Regions from separate parts of the Homo sapiens genome. Here region 1 is linked to region 2. The links come from fine-mapping of genetic effects on gene expression. Tissue or cell type: whole blood. Region 2 holds a variant in brackets; the other region holds the start of a gene. Each region is shown on its reference strand, or each on the opposite one.

Region 1 (2,905 bases), not on the chromosome of region 2:
TCATCCTATTCTATTGAATTCTCCACCCATGAACCTGTAGTTTGGAAAAGACCAATCTAGGGCAGATGGCTCCCCCTGGAATTTTTGGACCAGGCTGCAGTTAATCTGTAAAGTGGGGAGGGGAGGATCATGGTCACAGCTTTGCAGGCGGTGCAGACATTTAGATTCTCCCTCCATCGGGTTAAGACCTTGCTCTTATAAGGGCTGGCCACAGTCCAGAGCTTGGATGCTTCTGGTGAACAGGAGAGGCAGGTGGAGCTGAGCCTGAAGCTTAATAAACATCTGCTTATTCATTCATTTTTCTTGCCTATTTTGTGCCAGGCACTGTGCTAGGCCTCATTTGCTCTTCCGACCTGTTTTTTTGGGAGGAAGAACAAATCTTCCGTTCATACTCCCCAGAGTGGGAAAGAGCCTCCCAGAGGCTGCCATCATACCCCACCATCTGACCTCAAATAATACCAGCAGCGCTCCTCTCTTCAGCCCTGACGATGGCCAGGTGCTGGGCTGAGCTTCTGTGTGTCGCATCACTGCATCCTCACAATAAATTTAGAAGGGCTTGTAATTTCCCCATTTTGCAGGTGAGTTAACAGGCTGGGGAGGAGCAGGAACAGTCAGGACTGGAATCTAGCTTTGCTCCAAAGCCAGCTCTTAATTACCAACATGGGGATGGGGGTGGCGTGTTCCTGGCCCTCATTTTCCGGGAGAGGGGTAACTCCCCCGATTTTGGCCCCCACATCCCTGAGAACCTTGGGGTCTGGCTGTAGGAGGTAGGGGAGCTCTGAGGGGTCCGCGCTGGCTAGTTCCTGAGAGAGCGTTAAAAGTAGATTCTCCTTTCGCTCCAACTTTCTCGGTGTCTCAAACACTCTCCTGCCTTCTGGGCCCATTGGGCACACCGCCACCCAATCCGGGGACCCCCGGAGACTCGCCAGCTCTCCAGGATGGGAATTTCGTGATGTTCCCTGCCTGAGCTTCGGGGAGGGCGGGGGAGTGCTGTAAGGGGCTATCGCGCAAGTGCAGACCCTCTGCTTCTGCCGCAAACGGCGGGCCTCACCTGGACCCGGGGACTCTTCAACGAGGGGCGCTAGCCTGGCCCGACTGGGCGAGTCCCCGCGTCCCTGCCCGTTCCGTCGCTCAGTTCCACGACACGCTCCCCTGCCGCCCCGCCTGTTCGCGGGTGGGTGGGCGCTTCCCTCGGCTCCCCGTGACACTTTGCAGACGCTCCCCGGCGCCGGGCATGGGCGCCGCCGCCGTCGGTCCCCGAGCCGGATTCCGCGAGCGGGTGGGTGAGCGCGGGGGGCCTCGGCCCCTCGGACCCCGGGCACCCGCGGGCGGGGGATGGTGGCCGCGTTTGCACCCCCGCCCTAGTGCATGTTCCCGCTGGAATCGTTCCACGACCGCTCCCCCTCCCACCCGCGGGACAAAGGGCGGGGGCGGGGGGGGCGCACCCCCACGCGTGACCTTTCCCCGTACTGCGCACGCGCCCAGCCCCCACCACCGGGGGACGGTCCGCCCGCCCACGCGAGTGCGGGGGAGGGGTGTGGGGGCCCCGAAGGTAGAGGAGGCAGCGCGCACGGGCTGGACCTCCTCCTACCCTGGGAAGTTGGGGCAGTTTCCCCCTGCACCTGCCTCTTCCTTAGGCCTGGCAGTGGCCCGCGATGAGAGAGGGTCCTTCCCCTTCAGGCTAGGTGTCCCTGGTCAGGCGACCCCTTGGGGCACCCAGCAATTTAGGGCTTCAGCTTCCTTTTCCTTCGATACCCAGGAGCCCACGTCCCCAGCTCACTTCTCCCCCAGGACCTAGGCGGCTGGGCCCCCTGCCCCTGACTCCAGGAGCCCAGGAGTTTGAAGCCCAGGCGCGTTTTGCCTCAGTCCTGGGGTCCAGGCTCCCTCCTCCCTCAGACCAGGGGTCCAGGCCAGAAGGTCCCTCCTGTCTCACTTCACCTCCCCCAGGATGGACCCTCCAGTCCATCTGCGTCTCTCCATTTGTGGCTGCCGTTTCTGTCCAGTGCCCCTGAGGCCCTCGGCTGCTGGGGTCCGTAGGAAGCCGCGCCATGAATGACCGGAGCAGTCGGAGGCGGACAAGTGAGGAAGCTGGGTCCCCTTCCCTACCCTGGGTCCCAGTGCGGTCGGCTCCAGGCTGCCGTGGTTGGGGGGTGGCCTGAGAGGCCCGGGGAATTCTCTGGGGTAACCCGGGGCCTCTCCTCTCCAGTGAAGGACGATGAGACCTTCGAGATCTCCATTCCCTTCGATGAGGCACCCCACCTAGACCCACAGATCTTTTACAGTCTGAGCCCCTCTCGGAGAAACTTCGAGGGTGAGCTGAGGGGGTGTGGAGGGACTGGAGTCAGCTGGGAAGCCAAGCCCTGAGTCCCAGGGTGTGACCTGGTCCCCCCACCCTCGCTGTGTCCCTAGAGCCTCCGGAGGCTGCGTCCTCCGCCCTGGCTCTGATGAACAGCGTCAAGACCCAGCTGCACATGGCTCTGGAGAGGAACTCCTGGCTGCAGAAGCGCATCGAGGACCTGGAGGAAGAGAGGGACTTCCTGCGGTGCCAGCTGGACAAATTCATCTCTTCTGCTCGGATGGAGGCAGGTGTGTGTGGGGTGCTCTGATCCACATGCCTCCCTGTCCCGCTACTGGGTACCCGCTCACCCAGACTCAAGGCTCCACTGTTTGGCTGGCTGGGTGGGACCTGCCATGTTGGCCCTATCTGCTAGTCCCCTGCCTGTTTTGGGCCCCCAGGCCCAGCTGCCTCCTCACTTGATTCCAGGGCCTCATCCCCATGAACTGTCTACTGGGGCCCGTCCTCCTGCCTTCTCCGTCAGCTCCCCAAATCCCATCAGCCTCCAGTGCCCTGCCATCTGCTTCCTTGGCCCATGGTGACTTCAGGGACCCTGGCACCTGAGAGCCC
Region 2 (2,905 bases):
GAAGTTGCAGTGAGCCAAGATCACACCACTGCCCTCCAGCCTGGGCGACAAAGCAAGACTCTGTCTCAAAAAAAAAAAAAAAAAATCAAAAAATTAGTCAGGTGTGGTGGCACATGCCTGTAGTCCTAGCTACTCAGGAGGCTGAGAAGGGAGGATTGCTTGAGCCCAGGAGTTTGAGGCTGCAGTGAGCCATGATGGAATCCCGGCACTCCAGCCTGGACGACAGAGAAAGACCCTATCTCTGAGAAAAACAAAACAAAACAAAGACTCTAAATGATAGGATATATGTTAAGATTAGTCTTATTTGCGCTGGGTGTGGTGGCTCACAGCTGTAATCCCAGCACCTTGGGAGGCCGAGGTAGGCAGATCACCTGAGGTCGGGAGTTCGAGATGAGCCTGACCAACAAGGAGAAACCCCATCTATACTAAAAATACAAAATTAGCCAGGCGTGGTGGCGCATGCCTGTAATCCCAGCTACTCGGGAGGCTGAGGCAGGAGAATAGCCTGAACCCGGGAGACGGAGGTTGCGGTGACCTAAGATCGTGCCATTGCACTCCGGCCTGGGCAACAAGAGTGAAACTCCATCTCAAAAAAAAAAAAAAAAAAGGTCTACATAGACAAATATGTTCGTTGCAGGATCATTTGTGATAGCAAAGAAATCGAAGAGAACTTGGAAAATAGCTAAAAATACCTTCCATGACATACTATGTAAGCTTTTTTTTTTTTTTAAATACAGAGTTTCATTCTATCACCCAGTCCAGTGTGCAGTGGTATGATCATGGCTCATTGCAGCCTCAAACTCCAAGGCTCAAGCCATCTTCCCACCTCACCCTCTCAGGTAGCTGAGACTACAAGGCCAAATCACCAGGGCGGACTCATTTTTTTTTCTCTTTTTATAGAGACAGGGTCTTGCTGTGTTGCCCAGGCTGGTCTCAAACTCCTGGGCTCAAGTGATCCTCCTTGCCTTGGCCTCTCACAGTGTTGGGATTACAGGTGTGAGCCATCATGCATGGCCTGTAAACTAGAAAGAGGAAAGGGAGGTGTTCTTTTTTATGGATATGGAAGAATGTTGATGACATATTGTTGAGTAAAAGAAGAAAATGACAGATTTTTTTTTTTTGAGACGCAGTCTCGCTCTGTCGCCAGGCTGGAGTGCAGTGGCGCGATCTTGGCTCACTGCAACCTCCGCCTCCCGGGTTCAAGCGATTCTCCTGCCTCAACCTCCCAAGTAGCTGGGACTACAGGCACACACTACCAAACCCAGCTAATTTTTGTATTTTTAGTAGAGACGGGCTTTTACCATGTTGGCCAGGGTGGTCTCGATCTCTTGACCTCGTGATCTGCCCGCCTCGGCCTCCCAAAGTGCTGGGATTACAGGTCTGAGCCACCGTGCCTGGCCGACAGATTTATATATAATGTAATCTTATTTTTGTCAAGAAGAACATCACGTATGTATCTGGGTTGTGAATGGAAAAGGTCCGGGAGGCCAGGTGTGGTGGCTCAAGCCTGTAATCCCAGTACTTTGGGAGGCCAAGGCAGGGGGATCACTTGAGCTCAGGAGTTCTGGACCAGC[C/T]TGAGCAACATAGTGAGACCCTGTGTCAAAAAGAAAAAAAAAAATGTTCTGGGAAATACAGAGGTCATAGAGGTGACCGCGAGGTATATCGGATAGAGAGAAGAGAGGGACTTTTTCACGTTATACATGTGTGTGATGTTTGGTTGTTTTCCCCCATAATGAGTATCTACGTCTTTGTAGCCCTTTCCCCTCACACAGACTAAAAACAGTCATTACCATGGCCTAAAGAGCAGAAGTCACTCTAGAGTAGCTAAGTCATGCTCAGCTGGTGTAAGAGCCTAGACTTAAACACGTCACCAATCCCCCCCTTTCTCTACATAATTTTATGGCTGAAATAAAAGGAAGAGAAGAAATCCTGGTAAAAATGACCCCAAAGTAAATATGGCACTTGGTTACAGAATCCAAAGCCTCCTTTTTTCAAGTTGCTGAAGTGTCAACACGGTATTTTAAGAGGTCACTGTGAATATATGTAAGGATTTCCCTCTAGTCATTACACATGAGGGCCTGAGAAATAATAGGTGTCAACTGCCTGGTTCTACCGCTAAGGAAACTGGGGCAAAAAGAAAGGGTGGCTTGCTCAAGGCTATTGGGCTTTAGAATTATGGTTTTGGGTTCCACTTTCTAAATTATTACTACCAAACATCAAACAGGCAAAAAAAAAAAAAAAAAAAAAAAAAAAAGAAAGAAACCGTCAAGGAGTGAAATCTATAAGGTCTGTGCTTCACAGAATTGTATTCATTTAAATTATCAGGCCCTGCCCCCAACCTCACCCTTTAGTCCTTAGGCAGCTTAAGTCCCTTCCTCAAGAGGCCACATGTGTCCCAAGCCTGGGATGGAGGCCCTGTGCTGCACCCCCATGGCAGCTTGCTCTGTCCATGGAGACTCCTATGAACTGAGTTGGTTCCCCTCCAAATCCATATGTTGAAGTCCTAACCCCCAGTACACTTTGGAATGAGAATATTTGAAGATAAGGCCCTTAGCAGGTAACTGAGGTTATTTGAGGTCAAGGGTGGGGCCTTAATCTGATAGGGCTGGCATCCTTACAAGAAGGGGAAGAGACCAGCACGCTGGCTCATGCCTGTAATCCCAACACTTTGGGCAGCCGAAGCAGCGGGCGGATCACTTGAGGTCAGGAATTTGACACCAGCCTGGACAACATGGCAAAACCCCGTCTCTACTAACAGTACAAAAATTAGCTGGGCACGGTGGCAGGTGCCCGTAATCCCAACTACTTGGGAGGCTGAGGCAGGAGAATCACTTGAACCCGGGAGGTGGAGGTTGCAGTGAGCCGAGATTGCGCCACTGCACTCCAGATTGGGTGACAGAGAGAG

What was found. PIP is the estimated chance that this variant, and not a neighbour inherited with it, causes the effect.
Region 1: it holds the start of CCDC106, and the variant in region 2 is fine-mapped to the expression of CCDC106 in whole blood (TOPMed, PIP 0.97).

Annotation. Positions count from the first base shown.
Region 1 is chr19:55,646,999-55,649,903 of GRCh38, forward strand. CCDC106 (coiled-coil domain containing 106) reads left to right here and starts at 1,214. Exons shown (of 5, transcript NM_001370470.1): 1 at 1,214-2,079; 2 at 2,207-2,311; 3 at 2,410-2,586. The coding sequence starts at 2,049. RefSeq lists silencers at 1,290-1,409, 1,440-1,569 and an enhancer at 2,630-2,679.
Region 2 is chr6:107,119,653-107,122,557 of GRCh38, forward strand. No RefSeq gene overlaps it. Among named protein-coding and RNA genes, the nearest start is that of BEND3, 5.6 kb to the left of the region's middle. The variant C/T (reference allele first, on the strand shown) is at 1,575.